Linked DNA regions of Homo sapiens: all the other regions are linked to region 1. The links come from fine-mapping of genetic effects on gene expression. A gene starts in region 1. Each other region holds a variant in brackets. All regions are shown on one strand. Distances are from middle to middle. Region 1 holds the start of EPSTI1 (epithelial stromal interaction 1). Region 2 overlaps EPSTI1 (epithelial stromal interaction 1). Region 3 overlaps AKAP11 (A-kinase anchoring protein 11).

Region 1 (10,408 bases):
GGAAGGGGAGATGCATGGGAACCCCCAACTTTGTAGTCTGGTGGGTAGACATACAGGTAGCCTGGAGACTCCATTTGCAGCTAGTGTCTGAAGTCTGAAGTGGGGGGCAGTTTTGTGGGACTGAGCCCTTAATTTGTGGGGTCCACACTAACTCTGAGTAGTTAGTGTTAGAATTGAACTGTGGGACACCTAGTTGGGGTCACAGTTAGTTGGTGTTAGAATGACATATTTGATGTCAGGAAAAAAAAAACCACACAACTCCTAATGATCCTGTAGACCAAAGCTCAAACGTCACCTCTAAGGAAAGATCTTCCTGCTCCCAAGACCAGCTGAGACCCCAGCTTTCCTTGCAAGCTTGTCCAGCCCAGGGCCCACAAGGTGCATGTAGCCCAGGTGGCTCAGGATGGCTTTGAATGTGGCCCAACACAAATTCATAAACTTTCTTAAAACATTGAGGTTTTTTTGCGATTTTTTTTTTAAGCTCATCCACTATGATTAGTGTTAGTGTATTTTGTGTGGGGCCAAGACGATTCTTCTTCCCATGTGGCCCCAGGAAGCCAAAAGATTGGATACCCCTGCTTTAAAGTATACATATTTGTTCACATATTAATAAATGTCTGTCCCATCAATTAGACAGTAAGCTTCATAAGGGCTTATTTTGTGTTGAATAGTTATTTGTTCCTAGTTTTTAATTAGTTCTTTTAAGCTAGAGATCCTCTCATTCCATGGTGGTTATGAGGATTGAAAGAGTTAGTATACATAGTGTGCATTTACATACTAGCTACTACGTAAGTGCTATTATTATTATTGCTCATGTTGAAGTCTCTACAATACTAATACGAAGTAGGCCACAAAAATGTTAAGATTAACATAATTTACATACAAATTCAGCTCAAGTTAACTGTAAAATAAAATTCCATATTATAGGTTCATTTTCAAAATATATTTTTATTTTCTTCAAACAGCATCAAGCTAAAGGACCAGGTATGGTTAGACAAGTACATGAATGTGAATTCAACCCTATATTACCAGCACAGGCAAGACCCCATTTCCCAGAATTGGATAAAACTAGGTAAATGCATGTCTTTGTCTTATATTTATCTAGAGGTGATATAAATAATGTAAAATATTTACAAACAAGCAGAATATTAAAAGGAAGGATAAAGGTTTACTTTGGATTAGAAGTTTGTGTAAGCTTTTTTCTCTTTTAATTTGTGTAGACAGCTTTGATATTTAAGGACAAGACAAAAATCACCAAGTAAAAATAATTGGGAAAGCCAGTATGAATTAGTAAATACTTATAATAACTTAAATCCAAATTCCATCAAGAACTCAATCTTGGCCAGGCGCGGTGGCTCACGCCTGTAATCCCAGCACTTTGGGAGGCCGAGGCAGGCAGATCACAAGGTCAGGAGTTTGAGACCGGCCTGGCCAATGTGGCGAAACCCCGTCTCTACTAAAAATACGAAAATTAGCCAGGCATGGTGGCATGTGCCTGTGGTACCAGCTGCTCAGGAGGCTGAGGCAGAGGAGTCGCTTGAACACGGGAGGCAGAGGTTGTGGTGAGCTGAGATTGCGCTGTTGCACTCCAGCCTGAGCGACAGAGCGAGACTCTGTCTCAAAAAAAAAAAAAAAGAACTCAATCTTGTCTGAGAGTCTATCAGAGGTACTCAGAATAATTTAATATATTGATAGCCACAGATTTTTACTAGTATACTTTCTTTCTATGCAAATAGGTGGTTTATTTATTTATTTATTTATTTATTTGAGACAGGGTCTCACTCTGTTGCCCAGGCTGGAGTACAGTGGTACAATCACAGCTCACTGTAGTCTTGGAGCTCCTGAGCTCAAGCTATCCTCCTGCCTCAGCCTCTTGAGTAGCTGGGACAGAGGTATGTGCCACCGTGCCCAGATAATTTAAATTTTTTTTTTTTTTTTTTTTTTTTTGGAGAGACAAGGGACTCCCTATGTTACTCCTGGACTAAAGCAATCCTCCCACATTGGCTTTCCAAAGTGCTGAGGTTACAGGCACAAGCCCCTGCGCCCGACCACAAGTAGGTGTTTTAAACCAGTGTTTTTTTTTAACAAGGCACAAACATTCGACTTAAGGGTGACAGCATAGTACTTTACCAGGAATAAAGTTATGTTTTACACATATACACGTGGAAAAATTAAAACCCTATGAAGTTGGTATTGTCTTATATTAAGTAATGAGGAAACTGAGGCATAAAGTAGCTAAGGATTTTGTTCAAAGAGCAAGTGATGGCATAATCAGAACTTGAACCCAGGTCTACCCAGCATCAGAGCCCATATTCCTAATCCCCACACTGGGGCTGCAGGAGGAAATTAATGGAAGGATTCCCACAAAACAAGACAAATCTTTTACCATATAAATAAATTCACATTATGAGTGGACAAATGAAACTGTACTATTAAAGCACTTTATCCTCTTTTTTCTTTTTTTTTTTTTTTTGCTTTTTGTTTTGTTTTGTTTTGTTTTTGAGACAGAGTCTCACTCTGTCGCCCAGGCTGGAGTGTAGTGGCGCGATCTCGGCTCACTGCAAGCTCTGCCTCCCGGGTTCACGCCATTCTCCTGCCTCAGCCTCCCAAGTAGCTGGGACTACAGGCGCCTGCCACCATGCCCAGCTAATTTTTTGTATTTTTAGTAGAGACGGGGTTTCACTGTGTTAGCCAGGATGGTCTCCATCTCCTGACCTCGTGATCCGCCCTCCTCGGCCTCCCAAAGTGCTGGGATTACAGGCGTGAGACACCATGCCCGGCCTCTTCATTTTTTTAAATCAGAAAGTGTTTCTAATTTTTATCCCCAAAATAAATAAAGCCTTCTTTATTTTGGGGCAGCGGGTAGGCAGCTAATTCTACTGAGATATTTGCCATTCATTTTCCTTGGTTTTCCAACTTCATTAAAGGAAACAAGTGAGAAAGTGAATCTAAGTAACTAATGGAGATGCAACAAAAATTCAAAGTCATCCCAACAGGATCTCAGACATCAAACCCCTAAAAGGGAATATATAATTCTGTACTTACTGCAACTGGTTCACATGAGGAAAAAAAAAAAAAAAAAGGAAGACTCTGTGAGAGATAACTAAACACTTCCTGGTATTTTTTTAATGGTTCATTTGAAAATCTTTTCAGGAATCGCAAAATAGTGTACAGTGAGCTCTTCAGGGTATTAAGGCCTGGATAACCCATCAGAAAGCTGCCTCTTTCTGAGCAATTTGATCTGGCAAGATTCCAGGGTAATTACAACCAAATAAGAAAACAGATGCAACAGTTAATACTTATGCGATGATATGAGCTTAGAAATAAATGGTTGTATCTAAATAAATGCTTTTTAACAGAAAAAAGTCATGCAAATCATGTTCATCGTTAACTATTCATGGACACGAGACCATATGTCTGTGACCTTTGTTACTGTTAAGTACTATAGCTTGTAGATACGTGGGTTACTTGAAAGTAATTGGCTGCTTCTACTGTGGCGAGACACTAATTATTCTGAGGAGGAAAGAAATGCAACAATCTCTAATTGATTTCCAGATTATCCACCCCATCTAAGGGTAAACCTAAGCTAAATAATAATATTAAAGGCCTGGTACTTTCCAAAAGCTAAGGGATGAAAGAAAATCTACTGTTTATCGGCCATAAGGTTATATACTGTTTCTTAGCAACCAGGGTTTGTCTTTCAGAGACTAGAAGTCGATGAAAAAGGAGAGACTAAAAATAAAACCATCTGGACAGTTCCAATTCACAGAGGCAGCACTTCAAAGGCAGTGATGTTGTGATAAACCATACTGTTGAGTTAAAGTTCATTCCATTGGCTAGAAAGAGAGGCTCATGACACTTGCTTAATAAATGTTTCCCGGATACTCACTGCAGTCCCTGAACCAAAGACCAGGAATAAAAGCTACCTATCTGTTCCTGCATAGAGCACATATCAACATCAGGGATGAGAGGTACTATGGTCACTCACCTCCTCACTCTCTCAGCTCCACTCCTCTGGTTGTAAGAGGCTAGTTTATCTGCGAGTCTTGCTGGGACGTAGGCTTGCTCCTACCTAGAGGCAGAATTTGAACCTTCTACCCCATATCACATTTCTTGTTGACCCTTACCTGTTAGTGTCTGATACAGTAATTCCGTTTAGGACACCAAGTTTTGTTTTTCTGTTTTGTTTTGTTTTGAGACAGTCTCGCTCTGTTGCCCAGGCTGGAGTGCAATGGCGCAATTTCCGCTCACTGCAACCTCCGCCTCCCGGGTTCAAGCGATTCTCCTACCTCAGCCTCCCAGGTAGCTGGGACTACAGGCACGTGCCATCACACCCAGCTTATTTTTTATTTTTAGTAAAGACTGGGTTTCACCATGTTGGCCAGGCTGGTTTCGAACTCCTGACCTCAGGTGATCTGCCTGCCTTGGCCTCCCAAAGTGCTGGGATAACAGGCTTGAGCCAACGCGCCTGGCCCAGCACCAAATTTTTAAAAACAGTAAGGGAAAAGTTATTTCCATACTGGTTGGAGTATGAGTTCTGGAGATACCTGGAAAATGACATCTTACTGGATGCCTAGGCAGTTCCGACACACCCATATCTTTCAATCCTGTAGCCAGTCACAAAAATCAGGAAAGTAGTATTCCTGGAAGGAACCGGGCTGGTTATTTACCAAAGGACTGCAAACTAGCCGACTCAATTTATAAGGTGCGGCATGGATACTTTCATTTAAGCAAATGAGCTTTCATTCAGTCAAAATCCCTGTTGTTGGGCCCCTGTGGTTTTAAACTCCAAGGACCAAGGTGCTTGTGAGTGAGTATGTTTGGGGCCCGGGCTCCCGCCCCGAAGCCAGGTTGTTAAAATACTCACCGCCTCTGGCCCGCGTGCACGACGCTCTCCCGCGAAGGGCCCTTAGGGGCTGCCTCCAAACCCTCTCTCTGGTCTTCCACGGGGCTCAGCTCCCCTTGCCGCCCAGAAGGGTCCTGGGGATCCCGGGTCGGGCGGGAGGCAGGGGAGGCGCCGAGCCCGGAGTTCACCACTCTATTGCGGGTGTTCATGGTTCACAGCCCGCGGGTCCCGGGCCGCCGTCGCTGCGGGAGGGATGCGGCTGGGACGCTTAGCGAGTCTCAAGATGGGATTCCAAAGTGCAGAGGCAGCGGTTTTAACAGCTGAGTTTCGGTTTCTCAGAATCAGCAGCAGACTGCGCCCGCCCCAGAGAACTTCCCCACGTATTCTCCACTGAGGCCCCGTCCGACCTTATCGCGGGTTAACAGCCCAGGATGTTGACTTGAGCTGGCTTGGTCGGCTACAGGTGAGACGGTTTAAAGTCTCACAATCACCTTAGAGGTTAATCAGAATAACTGGGATCAGCCACGGACACCTGGTGAGCGATTAGCCCGCAGAGTGACTACAATCCTGAAAGATACTTGAGAAACTGTTTAACAGGCAACTCTAATTTGAGGTTACCGCTGGATATTTGAGACTGTAAAAAATATATTAACCTTAAAATACCAGAGATTAGGTCAATAACTAAAATCATCTCAACAAAATGTCGCCTTTTATCAGTAATGACTGCTGTGTGGCTGTTACCAATGCACATACTTTCAAGTTAGAGGAAATGGAAACTGAAATCAAAAGAAAACAAAAACCTACAAAGCCGGAGAAGTAAGCTAAGGTAGACATGATTCTCCAGGCAGCCTTGCTAAGTAATTGACTAGACATTCGAGAACTATTAAAAATACCTGCTCTGTGCAGAACAGTGTGCAACGGTGATGTGGGGACATTTTAAAATATGGATGTGTAAGGCTCAGTTCCTGTAGGTTCAGGGGTGAGCTCTGGCATTCATATTTTTGAAAAGCTCCCAGATGATTCTGATGTGTGCCAGGGTTGGTCACCAGGGTCACAATGCCGTCTACACAAAGATGAGTGAAGGCTCTTCCCTCATGCTACCTGCATTCTAGGAGTATCCTAGTAGACAGGTAAACAAATGGGAATGCCACTTTGGGATAAATGAAATGACAGGCAGCTGTGGAGGCACAGAGAAACTGGGGATTAGCCCTCTGAGTAATTCAGGAACAGGGACATTTGAGAATGAGCCACCAAAGACATAGGAATTCACCAAGAAGAAGGAGATGCTATGGCAGAGGCTTGTCACTTAAAATGACATGGTGTGTACTTAATTCCAGGGGTTGTCATGTGGCTGGAGCACCCCAGTCCTAGGTCAGCAAGACAGTTAGGAGCTGGACTGTCTTCCTTATATTATTGGTGCTTAGAACAAAAAGACACATACAGGTTTGATAGCTAATGAAAGAATGAAATTGAAGGGTGGGCCAGGGTGGGACAGGAGAGGAGAAAATAATGACAAGGAACATGGTAGGAAAGTCAGTCAGGATTTCTATGCCATCCTAAGACATTAGGGTTTTGTAGAGTAGGCCAGAGTTTCACAAATTTCAGTAAGCATCAGAACCACTTGGAGGAGGGTGCGTTAAAACAGATTTATGGCCAGGCACGGTGGCTCACTCCTGTAATTCCAGTACTTTTGGAGGCCGAGGCAGGAGGATTACCTGGAGATCAGGAGTTGAAGACCAGCCTAGCCAACGTGGCGAAACCCCACCTCCACCTGGGCGACAGAGAGAGACTCCATCTCAAAAATATATATATATAGTTTCTGATTCAGGTCTGGGATGGGGCCCAAGGATTTGCATTTCTAACAAATTTCCAGGTGATACCAATGATGCCAGTCTCAGGATCACCCTTTGGGAACCACTGTTGTAGGCAATGTGGAAGGCACAGGAAGTTTTTCAATAGGGCAGTTACTCAATAATATCTGTTTTACAAAGTTAGCTTCTAACAATGTGAAAACGGAGATTGAAAGATGAAGAGACTGAAATCGGGAAGATAAATTCAGAGCCTAGTTACGTCTAGGTAAGAAATACAGATCTGAGCTAAGGCAACCCAGAAAGTGGGGAGCAAAATCAAGACATTTCACATGGGCCAGGCTCAGTTGCTCATGCCTGTAATCCCAGCACTTTTGGAGGCTGAGGCAGGAGGATCACCTGAGGCCAGGAGTTTAAGGCCAGCCTGGGCAGCATGGTAAGACCTCATCTCTACAAAACAAATAAATAAAACATAAAAGACATTTCACATGAGAGATTAGCATAGATAAAAACTAGATGAAAGAGAGAATTGAGTACTGGAAGGCAGCAGAGAGAAGGGGAGATGGCTTTTATAGTGCTTTGAGACCAGCTTTGCCACATACTGGCCACACAACCAAGGCCAAATCTCTTAATTCCTCAGAGATCCAGTTTCCTCCTCTGCCTCATGTGGGTATTGTGAGGAATAGAGATCATCCACATCAGTGGTTCTCAAATGGAGTTGATTTTTCCTCTAGCAGACATCTGGCAATGCCTGGACATATTTTTGATTGTGAAGCCTCAAAGTGGGTAGGTGCTGCTAGCATCTAGTGTGTAAAGGCCGGGGATGCTCCTAAACATCCTACAATGCACAGAATAGGCCCACATGACAAAGAGTTGTCCTGCCCCACGTGTCAACAGTGTTGAAGTTGAAAAATCCTGATCTTCACAGTATGCCTACCTTATAGCCCCAGTAATTTAATGGTTGCTGTCTTTATGGTGACTTTTAGCTTTGTGACTGGATACGAGGTAGAACCATTAACCTAGAGGAGGGACAAGCTTTGAGGGAAGTTCTAAAAGTCTGTTTAGGTGCTGTTGGGTGTAAGGTACCAGCGGGGTGAGAAACGCAGACCTAGAGATCAACAAAAAAGAGGAACAGCAGGGCCTTTCTGGAGGCCATCTTCCACATTGTTCTTTACTAGGAAAATACCCCTGGAACTCTTGTTTCAAAGGAGAAAATTATTTTGGTGGTTGGATGAAATTTAAAGTTTGAGGAAGGGAAAACCCACACTGGGGGAAAACTGATTCTCCTAAAGGAGCTAGTAATAGGGATGTTGGCCTCAAGAATATACTTAGTTAACCATATTTGTTTCACAACACAACCACATGTCACACCAAAGTTTCAAACCTGAGATTTCTCACTCCATTCACTTCTTGTTTTACCTGAGATTTCTCACTCCATTCACTTCTTGTTTTGCCACATTCTCAAAGTGTTTTAAAAAATGTGAATGTGAGGCTGGATGCGGTGGCTCACACCTGTAATCCCAGCACTTTGGGAGGCCGAGGCAGGCGGATCACGAGGTCAGGAGATCGAGACCATCCTGGCTAATACGGTGAAACCCTGTCTCTACTAAAAATACAAAAAATTAGCCGGGCGTGGTGGTGGGCGCCTGTAGTTCCAGCTATTCCGAAGGCTGAGGCAGGAGAATGGCGTGAACCCGGGAGGCGGAGCTTGCAGTGAGCCGAAATCATGCCACTGCACTCCGGCCTGGGTGACAGAGCGAGACTCCGTCTCAACAACAACAACAAAAAAAAGTGAATGTGATTTATTATGGCAACAGACATCTACAGGCTCCTTTTGGATGCCCGAGAATGGGCTACTTGTGTATCATCCATTCTTTCACCGTAGGTGTGTGCATTTGGGCGAAAATAAGGGCTGGCCTTTTACTGGAGTTGTTCTTGGGTGCGTTTTTCTATAGTAGTGGCTGGTGGAGAGAAGCAGAGGTGAGTGGGGAGGGTCCTGGGCCCCTATCCCTATTTAGCCAAGTACTTTAGCCCCTTATCTCTTCTACTCACTAGGCCACTGCCTAATTTTGTTTGAGGCAAGAATTCAATGGCTTTTAAAAGTTTGAAAAACCACCATACTAGACAATTACCTAGGAATATGTTTTAAGAGACATGAGAAAGAAGTGAAATCTAGTGGGATTGTTACCTTACCTGAAATTTGGCCAATTAGAGATTCATTTAGGAAATGTTTTTCTTTTCAAATGAAACTGCCTCTGGGAAATAATCATGTATTCGTTCCTTTTGGTAAATGAGTTTAATCTGAGCAAAAGACATTTTGGCTGGGGAAGAGGAGAACTGAGTGAAAAGAAAAAGGATTCCAAAAGTTGTGTAAAGAAAAACATAAAATGAGGCATTGTTGGGGAATGGAAATTCAGAAATACAATGAGCAATTTTAGCCAGCCCTATGAGCTTTAAGAGAGAAGATTAAATCAAAAAGAAACTTTACCAATTTATTTTACTGCAAACATGTCTAAGTGTGTCTTCTTTCAAGAAAATAAATGGGAATATATGTCTGATTTTTAAATTAATTGCCTTAGATTACTCCTGCATTAATATGTACAAATATAGAGAGAGATACATAAACTCTAAGACTTTTCTTGTCATAAAATGTGTAAATGAAAAAAATCTTAGTTTTTGAAAATTCTAAAAAGTCACATTTCCTTAAATTTGATTCTTCAGTGGAAAGTTAGATTAATCTAAGAGATTTAGGACAGCAGTTATCTAAAGGTTTTTTTTTTCTCTTCTAACAAAGGAGTTATGTAAAACTCTGAATATTTGGTATCTCCTCATTTTTAGTGTGTGTGTGTATGTATGTGTTTGAGCATACCTGTATTGTGACAACTCCATGTGAAATTCTTCAAATCCTACCATAGAATTGTGAAATGGTACAATTATGAGTCACCATAAGTTCGTACAGGAAATATTTTTTGAATGACAAGCATGTATCATTCTTTGCATCATACCATGGAGCTACAGTGGTAAGCAGACAGAATCTTGTTATTCCACCTTCATATTTAAGAGCATCTAACCACTTTATTCTAAACAAGGAGACAGAGGCTTAGAGAAGCCAAATGACTCACCAGCACTGCGCACAAACTAGTGGCATAGCTGGAACATAAATTTAAGTTGTCCGAGCCCCAAGTGTAGCTTTTCATATTTTGGAAGATGATTGTGACAAAATGTCTCTTTTGACAAAATTCAGAATTCGGCATGTTTTTTACTTATTATAATTATCCCAATGAGCAGCTGTGCATTACTTTCTAAAATCAAAATGACTATGCCAAAGTTTCTGAACCTGTCAGAATCAACATTAATAAAAACCTTAACACTCCAATATTTACCCCTATAATTACACGATCAAATGATCTCTACAATGATGCTGTTTTATACAACTTGTCAACATTTCATGAATTGCAAATATGCTACATTTGGGCTAAAAGGCCTTTTCTTTAACCGTGTTAAAATAGTGAGCCTTATAGTGTAGTGCAAAGAATTCTACTTAAGAATGGAAAGATACACTATTTTTCGGATGACAATGTGTACTGTCACTTGGGGAAATGAGGAATGTAGAAATGTGCTTTAAATGATATTTCCTACCCTCAGATAGGTGGCTGAATTTCCTTGTTTGTAAATTCAAATCTGAGGAGTAGGTAACAGCTGCCATATCTGGGTTCTAACACTGTGTAGTAGCTGTCACAAGATCTCTGCTAGC
Region 2 (10,408 bases), 100 kb before region 1:
TTGCTTTGCATAGCTTCTATCTCATTTTTCCTACTCTCTCTCTCTCTCTCTCTCTCTCTCTCTGTGTGTGTGTGTGTGTGTGTGTGTGTGTCTAACTCATACTAAAGTTCTTTAGTGGCTGGTTTGTACGATATTGTAGTCTCCATGCCTAGCATAGTGCCTGGCCTATATTAGTTCCTTACTAAAGTTTGAATTGAACTGGGTTTTTGATATTGTTTTGAATTTGTATGTGTCTTTGATCTTAAGCTTTCATATGTCTGTGTCTTCTTCAACTGTAGAATGTGTTCCTTGGGGGGATAATCAGGGTTATTTACAAATGTTCTTGTTCTCTTCCTCCTTTGTACGTTGCAGAAAATTGTAGGATTTTCTTTCCCACACCTTTAAAATTAGGAATAGCCACATGATTTGTTCTGGCTAATAACATGTGAACAGAAGTAGCATGTGTCATTTCCTGGAGAAAGCATTTCCTGGAGATAGCACAGAATACTGCCACTATGTCCTCCTCTTGGTGTATGGAAAGCATAAGAACAGACAGAGCCTTTCTCAGTCCTTGACTAAGGTGAGCAGAGGCTTCTGCTGACCTGTGCATAAAGTGCAGCATGGGCAAGAAACTATTGCTAATCCAAGAAGAGGTGGGGGCTGCTTATTGTGGTCACCATAACTTTGCCTATTCCGACTGCTCCATTGCCTGAGGACAGGACCTGTACCACTTAACTTTGTGTCTCCATTGTGCCACATTTAAAACAGACTATAGACATATATTTAAATGTTGATTTCTGATTTTTCTTAATTCACAATGTCCAATTTCAAATATCCCTCTCCCATCAGTTTCTGTTCTCTCCATACTAAAGCACAATTTCTACTCATTTTAGCTCAACTATGGTTTCTAAAACAGAAATTTCTAATCAGTTCATAATCTGGTGCCAATCACTGGTGTAAGGTTTTGTAGGGAATGAAATGTCACCCCCGATGACTGACGACGATTCCTTCAGCTCAGCTGTGGTCAGTGTCCTCCAGGGACGGTGAGAAGGAATGTTCAGAGCACATGCCCTGCAGCTGAGCAGCAAAGCAAAGGGCTTGTAATAAATCAGCTTCCTAGGGGAGGTGTGTGTTGCAGTACAGCTGTCCCTGTAGCCTCTGTCCCAGCAGATGGCACAACATGGCAATAAATGTCATGAAAATGCTTCTCCCATTTGCCTTTATATAAACCCTTCACTTCTGAGCATGTAATTCTGTGAGCAGAAAAAAAATGATAATCCTCTGTGATGCTTTTTAAACTCTATTGTTAAACAAGGGAATATTTTTAAAGGGAGGGAGGAATTCCAAATCAGAGCCCCTTCCTTGAAGGAATGCCTAACATGTATTTATTCTCTATGCAATCCTCATGGTAACTGGAGAGGCATATTCTTTCTCCACATGTAAATTTTATTATACCTCACTCCGATATTATTTCATGCACATCAGCACGGAGCTAGTTTCTAGATGTGCTAGTCCACTGAGTTATTAATAAAAACAAAGAGCCCACAACCTTCTATTTTCTTCTACTTGCTAATAGTTTCAGAACAATTCCTTTTACTTCCTCTGGCAGCCACACTTCCAAACACATCCTCTCATAACTGGACAAACAAGTCCAGCTAATTACAACCTATCTGCTTAATATCCTGAAATTTAAAATTAAGATTGTAGGCACTGTTTTTATGATTACATGTTTTTAAAAATTAGTTTTTAGCCAGAGTTATCACAAAACTTTGAATTTTAACTTGAAATTTTTGGCTTTATAAATGTCAAGGGTTTTACTTTAAAATATGTCTACATTTACTATAACTACAATGTAATTTTTCTAAATATACTTTCTGAAAGACAACCGAATCTCCAAATTAAATATGTAGGCTTCTTATCTTGATTTTTAAAAAATCGACCTAAAGAAAAAATGCAATGTTTCCTTTGAACATAAAGTATTTAGGGACCACAAGAAATGTCTCTAGTGTGAAAACATACACAAAAAAACATACAAAAAATGTGAGTTCTTAGGCCTATCCTGTGAATGGAATAAGATCTCCTGACCTGTATTATCTACAACTGTTAGCAGCAGTGAATCTGTACTGGTTGCCCCAACCTCAATTCTTGCCTCCTCAGAAGAAATTCAACCAAGGGGCATAAGGCAGAGAGACTGAGACAAGTTTTAGAGCGGGAGTGAGAGTTTATTAAAAAGTATTAGAGGCCTGGCACGGTGGGTCACACCTGTAATCCCAGCACTTTGGGAGGCCAAGGCGGGCGGATCACCTGAGGTCAGAAATTCAAGACCAGCCTGACCAACATGGAGAAACCCCGTCTCTACTAAAAATACAAAATTAGCCGGGCATGGTGGCATATGCCTATAATCCCAGCTACTCGGGAGGCTGAGGCAGGAGAATCACTGGAACCCAGGAGGCAGAGGTTGAGTGAGCCGAGATCGTGCCGTTGCACTCCAGCCTGGGCAACAAGAATGAAACTCTGTGTTAAAAAAAAAAAAAAAATTAGAGCAGGAATGAAAGGAAGTCAAGTACACTTGGAAGAAGGCCAAGTGAGCAACTTGGGAGATTGGGTGCATGGTTTGGCCTTTGACTTGGGGTTTTATATGTTGGCAATCTTCTGGAGTCAATGATTCCCTTGGGGTGGGCTGTCTGCATGCGCAGTGGCCGGCCAGCACTTGGGAGGGGCCGCAAGCCCAGTGTGTTTACTGGAGTTGTGCATATACTTACTTGAGGCGTTCTTCCCTTACCAGTCGAATGTTCCTGTAAGGTCATGTATCAGTTAAACTCTGCCATTTTGCCCCTTAATGTACATGCTTGAGCTTTCTTGCCCAAATCCTGAGATCTTATCAGAAGCTGCTGATCACCAGTTTCAGGTGTTTCTATCTATTGGGAGACTGCCTTTCCCTGGCACTGGCTGCAACCAATTATTACTTTAGAGAGTCAGCTTAACAACTGGCTGGCCGGCTGGGTGCAGTGGCTCATGCCTGTAATCCCAGCACTTTGGGAGGCTGAGGCAGGCGGATCACCTGAGGTCAGGAGTTTGAGACCAGCCTGGCCAACGTGGCAAAACCCCGTCTCTACTAAAAATACAACAATTAGCTGGGCGTGGTGGCGGGTGGGAGACTGTAATCCCAGCTACTTGGGAGTTTGAGGCAGGAGAATCTCTTGAACCCGGGTAGCAGAGGTTGCAGTGAGCCGAGGTCATGCCACTGTACTCCAACCTGGGCAACAGAGTGAGACTCCATCTCAAAAAAAAAGAAAAACAACAAAAATAACTTGGCTGACCATCACCTGATGGTTGCCTGACATTCCTGGTAGTGGGGGCCTCTCTTGGCCTGCTCCTGTCTGCCTGACTATCTACTATAATATAACTAAGCCCAGTAGTAGGGGAAATCCTTTGTTTTGTTAAAATAGGCCACTGGGTAGAGGTTGTTGCTTTGTAGATTTTAGGATCTATCAACATAATACCAAGAAGAAACCACAAAGGAAAAAGTGGTAAATCCAAATACAAAAGTGTTTAGAAGTTTATTAAACATTTTATTACACACCTGTATTGCCTAAAGTTTCTATAACAAACATCTTACATTGGAACGATTTTCTTGTTTTTATTTTCTACAAAAAAAAAAGCGGGGGGACATTAAAATTAAGCATAGAAATGGTGGAACTTTGGGATTTCCTGTCCAGTCACCTGCGAGTCAGGTTTTATTCCAATTGATTCAACGTGGCAGATTAAATGTGAAAAGTAAAATGGTGGGCTCCTTTAGGCAGCAAGTCTTGCTTCTCTCCTGGTTACCTCTGCCTACATAGATATTTGGTTAAGCAAGATGTTTATACCCCCACACATATTCTAGATAGTTCTGGTCATGAAGTAAGTCACAATTTTCCATATCTGCACAATTTTTAAAAAATGGAACTACCCATCTGCACAAAATCTTTGGGAGTGCAGGGTAGGCCAGGCAGTGGAGGAGAAATTGACACCAACTTCCCTGAGAGCTTCCAAAGTAAGAAAGCATCCCTTTTTCCTACGTCAACTCCTGGTTGCATGCTGGAAAATGCAGCAAGTGAGGCACACCAAGCATAGACGCAAAAATCGGAACACAACTGTAAGGTAGCCAGGCTGGCAGGTGTAGGGCCGAAATGGCTGCACACCACCACACTAAAATGTCTGCTACAGCCGCACATTTACAATCAGTTTGGTGATATTTCCAACACAGGCTGGGGGATTGAGTTTCCCCCATATAAGGCAATGACAAGGATTTCAAATGGACCAAACATTTTATATTAGTGTCAACAGCACTAACACAGCTTCAGCTGGCGGAGGAGAGGGAAACCAAGAATATCCACATTATTTACTCCAGAGAAACTTCCTGACACCATCTGTTCTCTGTTACCCCCCACCCACCAATGTGGCCCTTTCCTAGTGCACCCTTGCCTAGCTCTGCGAACCCCTCAGTTATGTCTCTTGGCCCAAGAATTTCAAAACCCCATGTTTTCCTGAATAAAGAGATTCGGAAAGTTCATTTCAACAGAGTGACTGGTAACACAGAAGATCTCTTAATGCTGCAAAGTATTATTAGTTGTCCAGCTGCAAAGATGATTTGTTGTATTTACCTTTATTCTAGGATTGAATGTAATGCTTTTGCTATACAATGTGGTGGCTGGGGGACGGTGAGGCGGAGGGGACAGAGGGATTGAGCTAGATTACACAGCGTAGAAAATCAATGCTCTTACACTCTAGGGTCTGAGAACTGGTTCAGGGTCACAGAAGTGAATAAGAAAGCCAACTGAACTAGCAATAGGAAATAGGTTACACAGAGCAAAGAAAAAACAAGTTTCTGAAACATGTACAAACTACATATGATGTCTATATTTGTGTCTAGCTGATGTGTATACAAACATTGGCCTTTCTGGAGATAAACTGTCCCCCTCTGAAAATCAGGGTAACACTATTAGTAAGTCAAGACCAAAACAAGAGCCAACAGTAATGACAGTACTATATTTGATCTATACGGCCTGGAAAAGGGAATTAAAATGAGACCCTTCAAGAGAGAAAACCCCAATAACTTTTCATTAAAAATAAAAATGACCCATTTATACAGAAGGAGTTCAAAATTTATTTATAAATTTGTGTAAAAGAATATAAGACCTTTTTCTTTTGTACATATTTGTACCATAAAGAAAGTAGGGATTAAAATCTAAAAAGACCCCCAAAGCTTTCAAAACCTGATCTGAGAATTAGATAAGAATATGTCACTTAGAAAGACAAGCCTGTAGCACCCATAGCTCTGATTAACCTGAAAGCATCAAGTGACTCCCTCTTTTTCTACCCTACCAACATCACTCTAATTATACTTCCAATTAGAAAAATAATGTAGCATTTCCCTGGCAGTAGAG[A/T]TTAAATATGAGTTCAGGAATCAGCTCCTCCAAACATGCATAAATGAGGACAAGGAGAAGCCAGTCACTCCTGACTGCACGGTCAAGTGTGTGGGCAGTTGAAATTAAGGTAAAAACAGTGAGGCTGAACAAAATCACATTAAGAAAAAGCATCTCATGAGGCTTTTCGAGGTCAGTTGATGAAGGCCAGATAGGAGTCAATATTTTCTCATATACCCTGGAAGAAAAAGAAAACAAAAATTACTGCAAGCAGCAAAATAAAATTCAAAGCCTTTGTAGTCAAAAATGAAGTTCCTGCAAAGAACGCTCTTATGCATCAAGCTGAAATGACCATTTTTTAAAATTAACAACTTAAATGACCATTGAAACGATTTGATTTTCAAGTCACATTGCATTTGATTCACAAAATAGTCTTGGTCAATAAGGTAATGGCTTGTCAAGTGATGTCTTATTGGCTGTGTTCTTAGAGATAGACTAACAGAGGTGACAAATATACAGTTCGAAAATGTTGTCACCCACCTACACAGTTACAGCAAGGACAGGATGAACACATGTGGAACAGAGCAATTTAAATGGAAATGTCTCAAGTAGGGTTACGCTGTATTATACAGCAGAAAGGTGACTTCTAAGAGGACCTTGATGTAGGGAGATAGATTGGTGAGTCTCCACTCCTACCATGTGCAAAGGGTCAAGAAACCTCCATCAAGCCTTCTGCAGTGCTGGGCCACGCTACGTATGGAATACACACCATTGCTGTTTCTTCTAACACTTTGAGAAATTAAAATCTCAGGTTGCCTCATTGGTCATAGGAAATGCTTAACTGCCCCTGAAGACATAGGATTTAGAGTTTCCACAGCATCCCAAAGAGCCTCACCTATTGTATCAGAGGAAATATTATTTAAAGGGATGTTTTTAAGTGACCCACCTTAGGTGCCTCGAAAAAACTAATAGAGAACCCTAGAAAAATAAAAAAATATATTTTTTACATATAAAAGCAATTATTGAAGAATAAATGTATATGTTAAGAAATATGAGAAGACTGATTTAAATTAACAATGATTAAAAAATAAAAATCAATCCACCTAACATACACACTTATTGGGGGCCTACTGCTTAAGTGTCTATATGACATTTCAAGAAACCACTGCTTCTTTCCATGGCTTGGTTTTATCATAATTTCTGCCTTCCTCCTTGTTTACTCTGTCTCTGGCTTTTTACTGGTTCCGATATTTCCTCCAAGCCTCTGTGAATTGAGGCATAGCTTTCCTCTTTCATTCTTTGGAGAAGCTCAGTCCTCATCTATCAGTCTTTAAATGGTGACATATCCTTAATTTAATAGTAATTCAAATATATTGATATAATTTAAGTTGCTAATTCTATATATTAATTTTGTCCACTTGTTATTTGCAGAACATGTCCTAAATAAAAGTTTAATTTATGGCCTCTCCTCTTACTTTTGTATGATATTCTTTTATGAACAGATGTTTTAAAATTTAATGTAGATATAGTTATCTTTTTTGTTATTGTTGTTTATACCTTGGGTCTTACAAAATCCTTTCTCAGCTCTATTTTATAAACAGCCTCTTTTATTTTCTAAAATGTAAAAGTCTTCCTTCCTACTTATAAGCTTTAATCCAGTTAGAATTTTTTTATGAATTATGTCGGGACCTAATTTCATGTAAGTACTCAATTGTCCCCACAGCATTTGCCAGAGTCTGTTTCCCCCCAGTGATGTGCTCTGCCCCGTCTGTCATACAAAAAACTAAAAAATTCAGAAATGTTGGGTGTGCTGGGCCAACTGCATACCGCATTAAATACACAATTAAGTCCCCATATATACTTCTTTATCTTTAGGAGTGAATTGGTTACTCTCAGTTCTTTGCTTTGATTCCAATTTATGTGAATCTATAGCTTATTTGAGAGCTCATTCCTATCTATTAACAAGGTATAACTCTCCATTTATTTATTCCACAGCATCTTTCTACAAAATTTAAGAATTTTTTTTCTTTTCTTTTTTTTTTTTTTTTTTTGAGAAAGAGTCTCGCTCTGTCACCCAGGCTGGACTGTGGTGGCGCAATCCCTGCTCACCGCAAGCTCCGCCTCCCAGGTTCACGCCATTCTCCCGCCTCAGCCTCCCAAGTAGCTGGGACTACAGGAGCCCGCCACCACGCCCGGCTAATATTTTTGTGTTTTTAGTAGAGACGGGGTTTCATCTTGTTAGCCAGGATGGTCTCGATCTCCTGACCTCGTGATCCGCCCACCTCGGCCTCCCAATGTGGTGGGATTACAGGCGTGAGCTACCGCTCCCGGCTAATTTTAGAATTTTTTAAAAAGGGTCATTCATATTTTTGGTTGGATCTTTTTATTAGATTTTTTATTTATTCCTAATGTGTAGAAATGTAGTTTTTACATATTGATCTTATATCTACTAACAGTGCCAAGCCTTTTTTTCTTCTAATAATTTGAATGTAAATTCTTTTGGATTTTCTACGTAAATAATTGTATCATCTGTGATTTATAAAGGCTTTTTTTCCCCCTTTTCAATCCTTATATCTTAACGGAAATGTTTTTAATGTATTTTTATTATTATTATACAGTTTTGATCCCTTTATGAGGCAAAGAAATTTCCCTTCTATTCCTAGTTTCCTAGAAGATTTTACCACAAGTGAGTATTGTAATTTAGCAAATGCTTTTTCTGTACTAATTGAGATGATCGTATGGAGTTTCTTTTATAATTTATGAGGTGAATTATCTCAGTAGGTTTTTTGTTTTGTCTGCAATAAGCCAAGCTTGCAATTCTGGAACAAATTCTATCTCATCAGGATATGTTATGCTTTTTCATATTTATTCTGTCAAAATCTTGTGATTGTTTTGAATCTATGTTTATGAGTGATAGTCTATTTTTTTTCTATACGGTCTTTGTCTAATTTTAATTCAAAGTCATGTTTACCTGCTTAATCATTTTGGATAATACTTCCTTCTTTTTAATCAGAAAAACTTTCTAGACATTTGAAATAATCTGTTCCTTGAAAGTTTAATAGAATTTGGCTCTAATATGTATAGGCCTGGTCTTCGTTTAATGGGAAGACAGTAAGACATAGATGTTGATAGTGTTTGTATCATTTTGCATGCCCACCAATAATGTGTAAAGTACCCACTTCCCCACAGCCTTGCCAACAGAGTATATTGTCAATATTTTAGGAGGGTTTTTTTTGCCAAATAATTGATAAGAAATGGCATTTTGGTTTAATTCTTTTTGAAGTCTGCTTGGTTGTCTTTCATTATCTCCTATTTTTTCCTCATTATTTCAAATCCAATTTTTATTTCATCAAACGTTTTATACATCGTGATTTTAAATTCAGTATCTAATCATTTTAGCATGTGAAATCATCTGGCTCTAAGTCTTTCTATTGTGTTTGTGATGTTGAATCACAACCACTTGTTTCCTTGTGTGTGTGGTAAGTTCCAGTTATTGTTTTATGCCTGGGATACACCACTGAACACAACAATCCAATGGCCCCACCCTTGTAGAATGTGGAACATACATCACCACAGGGAGAGGCGAAGAGTAAACAGTCAACAAAACATACAAGGAAATTATGTTTTAAAAGTATGTTAGAAGTTGAAGAGTGCTATAGAAAAAGGGAGGGGAGCCTAGAAAGGGGACTGCAGGAGCCAGGGTGAGAGGACAGGCAGCAGCTTTAACTAGGATGCCAAGGTAATCTCACTGAGACCGTGGAATTCAAGAAAGTAAATGAAGGAGGACAAACCATATGGATATTTTGGAGAATAGTGTAGACAGAGCACCCAGTGCTCTCAGCAAGAAAGCTGGTGTGGCTAGAGAGAAATGAAGAAGGAGAGCAGCAGGAGAGCCAGAGGGCTAAGAAGGAGTCTGGATCATGCAGCACCTGGTAAGCTGCTGGAAGGACTTCGGCTTTTACTCCAAGTGATTTGGGGGTGGCGAAAGCCATTGGAGGGGTATGCAGAGTCAGAATCTGACTTCTGTCAGTCTTGTATCGAGAACAGACTGTAGGTAAGTAATTGTGGGAGTAAGGAAACCATCTAGGAGACTACTGCAAGCATCTGGATGAGCACTGAGAGAGGCTGGAAGCAGGATAATGATGATAAGGGTGGTGAGAAGCTGTTGGATTGGATGTATTGGGAAGGAAGAGTCAAGAGGATTTGTTGATGGCTAGCTGTGTGGGTGTGAGAGAGGGATTGCACCGTTATGGAAACAGGAAAATGTGCAGACAGAGCACTAGGGTAAAGGGGATCAAAGGTTAGGTTTTAGACATGTTAAGGCTGAAATGTCTATTACATATCTTGGATAAGTAGAGATGTGTTGGGTAGGCAACTGGGTACACAAGTCTGGAGTTTGGAGGAAGGGGTCTGGGCTGGAAATAGAAACTTGGGAGTCATGAACATATAGATAGTATCTAATTTCATAAGAATGAATGAGTATCTAATTTCATAAGAAAGAATGTATTAAGTGAACATCAGTTCAGAAAGTGGTCCAAGGTAGATCCCTGAGGCACTTCACTGTTGAAAGGACAGGCAGATGCAAGGAATTCAGCAAAGAGGGATGAAAACGGGTTATCACTGAGGTATATGAAAACCCAGGAGAGAGTACAGTGTCACAGAAGCTAAGTAAAGAAACAGTTTCAAAGAAGAGGGAGTGATTCACCATGACAAAGAATGGCGATCAGTCAAAAGAGGAAGATTGAGAAATAATCGTTGGATTTTGCAATGTGAACATTTTTAGTGACCATGAAAAGAACATTCTTTTTGATGGGTAGATTCTAAAACCTTGTAACAGTGGGTTTAAGAAAAAAATAAAGAAATTAGAGATAGCAAGGAGAGGCACCTTTTGATGTTTTACTCTGAAGGAGGACAGAGAAACAGGGCAGTAGCAAGAAGGAAATGTGCTATCAACAGAATTTATGTTGATTTATGTTTTATGCTGATGGAAGTGTTCTAGTCGAGATGGAACATTCAGCAAT
Region 3 (10,408 bases), 710 kb before region 1:
GAGGAAAGATAGGAATGGGAAAAATGGATGAGGAAGAGACTTAGATTTGTCTCACAGTTTGCAGGGCTGCTCCTTTTAAACTGGCCATGCCAACATATTTAACAAAAGGAGAGTGGACAGGGAGGAAGTGATGGATACCTCAGGTGTGCTTTAACATCCTGCAATTTGAGTTCTTCCTCTGGCATTGCATTGAACTTGCTCTCAGCTTGGTAATGTTCTAACCAGATCTAACCAGTAGTCTCTTTACAGGACAGATTCTCCTGGGTGTGGGAGTTCAGGCAAATTACTGAAATGCTTGATGACTCAGTTTTCCTATGCGTAGAATGGGCATAATAGCACCTTCTGTGGTGAGAATTATGAATTCATGTATGTAAAGCAATTAAACAGTGTCTGGCATATGGCAGGCACAATGCAAGGGTACGGTATTAGTATTTGTTGAGAGCATACCGTGTGGCAGGTACTGTGATACAGGCTTCTGGTCGTGTTCAGAGAGGAAGGAATTTCTGCCCTCAAGAAGTCTAGAAGTCCAGTGCTGACCACTCATGCTTAAAACCATTTCTTGACTTCAGTGACACTAAATTCTTCTAAATCTCTACCTCACCTACCTTTCTGACTGCCATTTATTTGTGGTTCCTTTTATGCCGGTCCTGGAACCCTTTATCATGGTTGTCTTCATAGATGCTCTCTTGAATTTCTGTTCTTTCCCAGTCGCTGAGACCAGCTTTCAGGTTCTCTATATGTGGATTATTCTTAGAGTAACATCTCCATCTCTGACCCCAAGTAAATCTCTTAATTTTTAGTTCTTTTTTTGGGTATTATTATTTATATAATTTATATGTTTTGAGACATGGTCTTGCTCTGTCACCCAGGCTAGGGTGCAGTGGCGCAATCTTGGCTCACTGCAACCTCCTCCTCCCAGGGCTCAAGCGATTCTCCCTTCTCAGCTTCCCGAGTAGCTGGAACCACAGGTGTGTGCTACCACGCCTAGCTAATTTTTATATTTTTTTAGAGGTGGGGTTTCACCGTGTTGGCCAGGCTGGTCTCAAACTCCTGGGCTCAAGCCGTCCACCTGCCTTGGCCTCCCAATGTGCTGGGATTACAGGTATGCGCCCACTGTACCTAGCCTCTTGGATATTCCTATGTTGATATAAAATACTGTCTTCCAGTTACCTTCTAATTTGCAAAGCCTTCTGATTTACCTTCTGATTTGCAAAGAAAAAAATTTTCTTTCAGCATCCCAGGCTTAAAACCTTAAAGTTATTTTTCACATTCTTCTTTTTTTATGCTGTAATATACCCTGTTAGTTAATAGGTTCTGTGTGGGCTTTTGGGTGCTTCCTATGACTGGCCCATCTGCAAAGTAGATCTGTTGACTTATTTCGGCTACTGGCAGCTTAGGATAGATCCTTATATCTGTAAGAGCTACTTAAATGCCTTTTCAGCAATATACTCTTAGAGTCATGGCGTCATAGATGTCACTGATAAAAAGAAATGTGTTCCTGGGTTAAAATTCTGAACATATTTTCTGTTAGAAATAGTCTTGTGGATAGGGCTACGTACAAGATTAAGAATGTTACTCCATTTTCTAGGGAGCATATTCATGTTGAAAGCACAATCTCAAGATTTTAGTTTTTTGTTGTTGCATTTTTTTGTAGGTATTCAATTACATAGCATTTTAATTATAGCATATCATCCTTATAATATTGCCATACACATATACAAAGTTTTATTATAAATCAGTTGTTGAAAATATTTTTGAAAGTCAAATATATTACAGATGCACACTCAATAGTGAAACTAAGATAATCATTTGAGGGCATATATCCTTTACAGTGATTTCTTAAAACTGTATTCAAATGTAGGTCTAATGAGTTTTTTATTATGAAAATGTTAACTGTTTTATCCTCCTGCCTTCATCTGATTATTCTAATTAACTTCTAACAATGGACCGTTGCATGTTTAAAAGTTGTGTTTATTGTTGCTGAATAAGTAGTTTTGAAGTCAGTAGCCATTCACACTTAGTACTTTGTCAACTAGACCCATGTTATTCCTTTCAATACCAGTGGCTAGTTGGGCTCAAACATACCTTATAAGTAGATCTCAATCTGGAATGCAGTTGAAAAATCAATAATTTTTCTCTGTGACTGTTTGGGAAAACAAAAGTGACAGAACAAATATTCTTGGATTAATTTTGTAAAAAGTCATTAGGTAAGTGGCCCTATTTTCTATTTGGTGATGTTGCTTTTGCCACCAAATGCCTGTCTGCATTCACGTCATTGATGAAATTTCTCTTCACCGTACAGCTCGTTCACTTCAGTAAATCTATAGTTGCTTATTATGAGTAAGGCCTTTGGGGAATGCAGAGATGAGTAAGGCATGGCGATGGAATGAAATTCACTGTTGTATCCCAATCACTGTTACTTAGACGCTTGGTGAATGTATGTGTTGAACGTTGGTAGTACTTACAGTCCAGTGCAGGGCATAGACATGTAGACATTTAACTGTTACATAAGGCACTGTAGTCTAAAGTGCTAAAATAGGGTAAGTGGTGATTTTGCTCCCCAAGGAAATGTTTGGTAATATTTGGAGACAGTTTTGGTTACTGCAACTGAGTGCTACTGGCATCTAGTGGGTAGAGGCCAAGGAAGCTGCTAAGTGTCCTACCATGCATACACAGCCTCCTACAACAAAGACTTATCTGACCCAAAATGTTAGTAATGCTGAGATTGAGAAACTCTGTAGCGGTAAGAACATATATATTGTGAATGCAGGAATGAGGTTGAGGATTAAAAAGGAAAAAGGCAGAAACTATAAAGAAGCAAATATCTTAATAGATATTAAGACATACTAAAATCATTTTATACGATTGACTGTTGTTTTGAAAAACAAAATAGTATCTGATAGCTGTAGTAGTTTTAGATTTTGTAAGTCAAATAACAGGTCTGTACCCAAGAAAGGAACTTAGCTTCCTTATTTGCAAAAAGGGGGATAACATCACTTTTATTCTGCTGTTCACCTATTAGGTATTATTCTGTTTTATTTTTCTAGTGTTTGTGTTAGGGTTTACAAGATAACTTATTACAGGTTTTCTTCAAATAACATCACTTCATGTTTAATGTAGAAATCTATGACAGTCTTTTTTTGTCTCCATCTCCCCTGCCACATTTTTTATCCTATTTTGTCATACATTTTATCAATATGTCTGTCTTAAACCCTCTAATTAATTGTTACTATTTTTAAACAGTTATATTTTAACTGTTTAAAAGGGATTGAAAAATGAAGAATAACTTCTGTTACCCTCATATTTACCATTTCAGATGTTCTTTATTCCTTCGTGTAAGATTCAGATTTCCATCTGGTATTGTTTTACTTTGCCTGAAGAATTTCTTTCCATAGTTACTCTAGTGGTGGTCAACTGGTGGTGAATTTTCACGGCCCTTATTCATGTGAATAAATTTATTTTGCCTTAATTTTTGAAATACATTTTCATTGAGTATATCTGGGTTGATGCTTTTTTTTTTTTCTTCTTCTTAGTACTTTGAAGATAGTGCTCCATTGTCTTGTTTTCCGGTTCATATAGATGTGAAGTCTGTTGTCCTTGGTTCCTCTGTATATAATGTGTACTTTTTTTCTGGTCAATTAATATTTTTTCTTTATCACTGGTTTTCAGCCATTTGGTTATGATTTGCCTTGGCTTTCTTTATGTTTATTCTTAGGGTTTGCTGAGCTTCCTTGGTACTGTCAGTTTACGGTTTTCATCAAATTTGGGAAGTTCTCTGCTATTTTGTCTTCAAATTTTTTTTTCTTCTGCACCCACTTCCCCAGTGCACGCACGTGCACACCCACACACACACACACACACTCTCTCTCTCTCACTCACTCACTCGCTTACTCACTATGTCTCTTCGTGGAACTCCAGTTATTCACCTTTTATGGTGCTTAAAAAGTCACTTACACTCTACGTTTGTTTTTAAGTTTTGTCTCTCCATGTTTCATTTTGGATAGCTTCTATTACATTGTCTACAAGTTCACTGAGCTTTTCTTCTCTAGTTTAATCTGTTAATTGTATCCAGTATGGTTTTCGTTTCAGTATATTTAATTTTCATCTCTAAAA[G/A]TTCAATTTTGGTGTCTTTTGTATCTTCTCCTTCTCTCCTTATGGTGATGTTTTCCTCTCACTTCTTGAGTATATGGAACATATTTGTACTATAGTTTTACAATCCTTTTCTGTTCCTGCCATCATCACTGTCATTTCTAGGTCTTCATTTATTGCCTTTTTTTCTCTTGGTTATGGTTCATATTTTTCTCTTCCTTTGCATGCTTGGTAATTTTTATTGTATGCCAGCCATTGAGTTTATACTGTTGCTTGCTTGATTTATTATATTACTGAAGTGTGTTGGATTTAGTTGGGGTGCACAGTTACTTGGAATCTGTTGGGTTGTTTCAGGGCTTGCTTTTAGAATTTATTAGTGTGGGTCCAGAACAGTTTTTAACGTAGTGCTGAATTATTGTCTCTACTAAGGCTGCTTCTACTAAGGCTGCTACTTCTTCTGAGGAGTCTATCATTACCTGATACATTACAAGGTTTTTCTATTCTGGTGGAATATATTATGGTTTATCTCTAGGGCTCTCACTTACTTTCAGCTCTCCCTCCAGCTTAATACCCTGTAAATTCTAGCCATCTTGGTCTCTCCAAACTGATCTGTGTTTAAAACTCAGTGAAACCACCAGACTGCTTGGCTTTCCTGTCCCTGTATTGTGACCTGGAAGTAGCTGGCAGCCAGTGTTTCCCTTCTCTCAGGGATCACAATCCCGTGTTCCCTGTTGTCTGATGTTTAAAACCAATGTTTCATATATATTCTGTCCTGTTTTCTTGTAGTTATATTCAACAGAATATTAATTTTTAACACTTGGCCATTTGGCATTTGGTCAAAATGTGTATTTGGAGTGTTTACTCTAAATGTGATCTCAGATACTATAAAGTAGAAATTATTGGAAACACAAATGTATTTTCACAAACTCATTAAATGTAGACATACTCATTTAAATATTTGAAGGCATACTTTGCTCTTTATTCTGTTTTATATTTTTCAGCCTACATCATGCTTTGAACTTTGTTCTTTAAATATGTTACTTTTTATTTATTAGTTCAGCAGATGTTTGAATGCCTACTATGTAAAAATACATAAAACACTTTTGTCCTCATGGAACTTACAACAGGAGGGAAGTATGCAAACAGTGGCACCAGAGGATTAAATTATAAACCACTTAGAGAGCACAAAGGAGGTGGTTACTATTTGGGCAAGGAGGGATAAAGGAGAGATATGAGCCAAGCCTATTTTAGGGAGGGAAGTTTTTGAACTGGTGCGTGAATAGTAAGTAGCAGTTCAGCTGGTGGAAGAGAGAGGGTAGATTTGAGAGAAGTTTAGGAGAATGACAAGTCAGGATTTGGCAATTTACTAGGCGAGGTAGTCTGTAGGAATTGAGGGGAAGACCAGTTTCCAGCTTGGCCTACTGGTTGGGTTTGGTTTAATGGCTCTTACTGAGATAGAGAATACAGGAGGAGATCGTTTAGGGAGAAAGTTTTATTTACCTTTTGAACATACAAATTTTGGAGTAACTGGGATATTTAGTTGGAAGTGTCTAATAGGAAATTAGATATACAGAACTGAAGAATAAATTAGGGAGTTATTTGCATAGTTAAAACCAGAGGTAAGGATAAAATGTCCTTGAAAAACTAAATAAAATGAGACAAGAGGATAAGGATGAAGACTAAGAAATATTAGTATTTGAGTAACAAGTTATGAAATAATTTAGGAAAGGAAACTTACATACAGAGAGACAAGTTTTTCTCAACCAGAAATTACATGTGGCAGTTGTTAAAAGTACAGATTCCTATGTTCCATGTAGACCTGTTGAATTTGGATCTTCTGGTGGGGGAGTTGTGTGTGTTAGAAATAAGCTGATGTGTACAGGTACTGAGGTTTGAGAACTAGTGCAGTAGGAAGAGAGTCAAGATATGGCAATATTGTTGACAGGCGCTTCACAGACTGGCATAGTTAATTCTCCTGATACAAAAAAGGTCAAGTAATAGGTGATGTCAACTTGAACATTTCTTAGGTCAGAGGAGATAAGGAAAGACTTGGAGAATATATATTTTTTAATTATAAAAGAATTTATGTTCATTCAGAAAAGTACAAAACTCAACATACATAGACACAAAATGAAACACCCATGATTGTATCTACCCAGATGAAACCAATGTCTGTACTCATCTAGTGTATGTCTTCTTTTATATTACATATATAGATACACACATGTAGTTATACAGATTTTTCACAAAATGGGATAATGCTAATATGCCAGAACCTGTCTTATTTTACTTAATGATCTACCATCTTCTCATATTGTAGATAGATGACATTTTATAAAATTTAAAAGTCCCACTTGCATGGGTGACCACTGGCATCAGTTTAGTGTACCTCCTTCAAGTCATTTCCTGTGGATGCACAAATATTTACATATGTGTGTCAGAGTTGTGTCTGTATATAATTTTTTCTTTCTTTTTTTTTTTTTTTTGAGACTCTGTGGCCCAGGTTGGAGTGCAGTGGTACAATCTTGGCTCACTGCAACCTCCGTCTCTTGGGTTCAAGCAATTCTTGTGCCTCAGCCTCCCGAGTGGCCGGGATTACAGGCATATACCACCACACCCAGCTAATTTTTGTATTTTTAGTAGAGTCTGGGTTTTGCCATGTTGCCCAGGCTGTTCTTGAACTCCTGGCCTCAAGTGATCTTCCTGCCTTGGCCTCCCAAAGTGCTGGGAGCCACTGTGCTAGGCCAGTCTTTTTTTTTTTTTTTTTTTTTTAAATTACAAGTGAGAGCATCCTATTAACACCATTCTGCAACTTGCTCTTTCACGCCAGTATGGATCACTCTAACTCATTATTTCCAATAGCTGAGTAATAATCATGTGAATTTATTTGAATTGATGAACTTCTAGATTATTTTCAGTTTTTTCATTTTATTTCAGTGAATAGTCTTTCACATATCTTTGTGAATTTTGTGCAAGTATATATGTAGGATAAATTTTAAGAAGTGAAATAGCAGGACTAAAGGATATGTGTATTTATTTAAAGTGCCCTATATCTCTGTTCTCTGTATTCTTTATAATTGTTTCTGTAATTGCTTTCATTTGTTTACTTTTGCATTCTGTGATTTTTCTTAAAATCTTCTTGGTTTTCCATTGTTTTTAGCAATGTCTGTTCTGCTTTTTTGTTATTTCTAAGGGGATTTCATTTGTTTAGTGATAGTTTTCTGTGTGTTTCCTGAGCTATAGTGGTTCACTTCGTAGTTGTTTGCCTTGTCTGCCTCTTTCTTGTCTCTCATCTGCTTTTTTCCAAGCCATGTAGGTTCACTTTAATTTCTTTGACTATAGATAACGCACTTAGTTATTCTTTGCTTAGGACTCTTGTTTCTTCATCCAGAATAGGGCACAAAGCAGTAAAGCACTAAATGAAAAGTTTATCATAATACAAATGTATTTTAGGTGAATATACTGTATTTTTGTTCTTCTTGTGAAATCTGTCAAAAACGATGTGCTCTCTAATTATATAAGATGCTAAAGAAATCCTGCTCTAGTAGCTGTTATCCTTTCTTCCCCCATCAATCTTTGCATCATTTCCAAAGATGATTTTTTTCTTTGCTTTACAAAAGTATGTCATATCATCTCATATTGGATTCACTTTTATGTTGCACAGATATTCTCTAATAGATTTCTTTCTTCCTGAGACAGTATTTTATTTATGTTTAAATGAAAAAGTGGTGGAGTAAGGCAGTAAGTTGTTTTTCTTCCATGAGTGAAACAGAGTGTAAATATAGAATTAAACTGTTTCTCTTTCATTAATTTCAAACAATGATTTGAATTCTGAGATAATGTGAGTCTCAGGGGCATGATTATATTTGTCTGGATTTTTTCTTTTTATGTATATTGTATGTTGTTTGTTTTTCAGTGTTCCTTCGCAGATCCCATACTGAATTCCATTTGCTTTATTATTCAATCTTGAATAAGGGTGTTTTATCTGGATCTGCTATTCAGGAAAATTGTGGGTAAAGTGAACTGGGGTAGCCAGCCCTGTCAAATCCCGGATGTTGTTTCAGAGCACTCCCACCTCTCCCTGCCCAACTTTGAAACTGTTTCTTCTACCTTAGGTGCTTGTTGCACCTGAGGGTGAGCAGCTCATTTAGATAGTTGGTCCCATTTATTTGATGGTGAAGTCTCCTGGGAGTTAATGTTTATCTTTGCTCAGTTGACTTTAGTCAGCAGCTGCAAAGGTAATTGTTGTTTCCTATCTCTTTTCCCTACTTCCCTTTTAGGCAAGGTTAGGAGCAGACTCAGAGAAAGTGATGTAAGGCGTGCCATTCCTTTGTCCTGCAGTATTGTTTTTAATGGCTGCCATGGCGTCATTGTGGGAATGAACCTAAGATCATTTAATTACTCTCTTGTTTCTGGCATCTAGATTGCTTCGTATTTCTATTGTGAGTTGTAATGAACCAGACTATAAAACCTTTATGCACTGTAGAGGAGTGGTGAAGAGCCCCAGTGCTGGAGTTAGAAAATTTGGACTTGAATCCCACCTGTGCCATTTATTTACTCTGTGGGCCTGGGCAAATTGCTAAGCTTCCTCTTGCCTCAGTTTTTCTCATCGTCAAACCGGGGTCCTATTCTGTAGTCTTAAGGACAACATGAGATGTTTACATAAACCTCTTAGCAAAACAGAACACTTGGTGCATTATGAGCCCTTGTTAATAAACTAGATGCTCTAGGATCATTATTTGCTTTGATGCATTCCCAAAAGCAGAAATGCTGAGTCAAAGAAGTATTTCCAGGGTTTTGACACGCATTACAAAACTGCCCTGCAGGTGCCACTTTACTTAGGAGCCTTCTTTGACAGTCTCTGGTTTCTTGGAACCCTTATGTTGGCTTCTATGTTTTATGTTACATTTGAGAAAAGCCCACTTGCCTCTGAGGCTTTCTGGCAGTTGAGGAGAACACTGTGGAGAAGAAAGGAGAGTGAAGTGGCCTGGGACAAATAAAAGGATTATCTTTTTGCTTTGGCCACTATACATTTTTATACTTAAACTTTGTTTTGATAATTTTTGGTCCACTTGATCATTTTGGTCCTTAGGTAAATATTTAAGTCTTCTTTTGCCTGTGTTTTATAGTTTTCAAAGTACCTCCCATAAATTATTTTTCATTTGAGTCTCACAGTAAACTTCTCTGGTAAATACGGTATCATATACATTGAGGAAAAAGTTCCAGAGACATTGCAGTTTACCCAGAGGAAACAAAGCTAATAAGAGGCAGCACAGGGAGACGCATGATCGTCTTCTGGATTCTGGGGTATCACCCTTTACCTTGTGCTGTTGGGAACTCCTTGTGTTAGGCTGAGCCTTTCTCATGCTGCTGCTTCAATTTCAGTAATTAATCAGATTTTATTGTTATAGAGACCACTAGGGCTTATCTTAGTTCAGAATAGAATACAATCATACTTCTTTGTCTAAAAATTAAAATGTAGAAATCTCTAAAGAAGTGTGTGTGTTTGTGCACTCACGCTATAGTCTTATCTGCATAGCAAAAGAATATACAATTTGAACTTCACTAAAATTTAGTTTTTTAAAAGTTCTGACGGTGGGGGGCTAGATTGAAGTTTGTTTTTGCGTATAAATCTCCTCATAGTATAAATTTATGTTAACCAAATGTCTTGGAAACCTCAGCTAAGCAATTCATTTTTTGTCTTTTTGTTTTTTTCAGAAACTGGGTCTTACAATATTGTCTAGACTGGCTTTGAACTCCTGGGCTCAAGCAGTCCTCCCACATCAGCCTCTCGAGTAGCTGAGACTGCAGGCATGCACCACTGTGCCTGGCTTCAACTAGGCAGTTCTTGATAAGACCAGATTGATTTTCTGAAAATACTTGAAACTAAGAATTTCTTAAATATTTATTTGACTTTTTAAAAAAAGTATTTAGTTCCCCACTTCTACTCTTTATTGTGATGAAACTTTTTCCTTTGAAGGCTTTGAATGCAGGAGGGCCATATCTATCTTGTTTCTCTTGTATCCATAGCATCTAGCACAAGTAGATTTTAAATGAATGGACAAGATACTGTGGTCAAATGCAGATACCGAGTGGTTAATGCCTGGAGTGGATTTAAGTTCTCAAAGATGTTAAAGCATCTTTAAAAAGTTGAGACTTAGTTTTGAGTGTTTCACCTGGCAGGTGTTGTGTGTGTTAAGTACTGGTAATCATTTGACTTGGATGTCTTCTGAAATTTTGTCAATGGTATGCTCTTAAGCTTCCTATACAAAGAATGTATCTAATTTGATATGTACAGATTTCTCATTCGTCTATTATC

What was found.
Region 2: its variant is fine-mapped to the expression of EPSTI1 in whole blood (TOPMed, PIP above 0.99). The same link has a PIP of 0.9 or more in B cells.
Region 3: its variant is fine-mapped to the expression of EPSTI1 in breast (GTEx, PIP 0.94).

What each region holds. Positions count from the first base shown.
Region 1 is chr13:42,987,111-42,997,518 of GRCh38, forward strand. It overlaps EPSTI1 (epithelial stromal interaction 1), which reads right to left and starts at 5,131. Exons shown (of 11, transcript NM_033255.5): 1 at 4,868-5,131. The coding sequence starts at 5,055. RefSeq lists enhancers at 5,145-5,264, 5,525-5,764.
Region 2 is chr13:42,882,878-42,893,285 of GRCh38, forward strand. It overlaps EPSTI1 (epithelial stromal interaction 1), which reads right to left. Exons shown (of 11, transcript NM_033255.5): 11 at 3,511-5,625. The coding sequence ends at 5,617. Among named protein-coding and RNA genes, the nearest start is that of LINC00428, 15 kb to the left of the region's middle. The variant A/T (reference allele first, on the strand shown) is at 5,409.
Region 3 is chr13:42,275,422-42,285,829 of GRCh38, forward strand. The region is part of intron 1 of AKAP11 (A-kinase anchoring protein 11); the gene reads left to right. Among named protein-coding and RNA genes, the nearest start is that of AKAP11, 8.5 kb to the left of the region's middle. RefSeq lists an enhancer at 8,631-9,132. The variant G/A (reference allele first, on the strand shown) is at 4,114.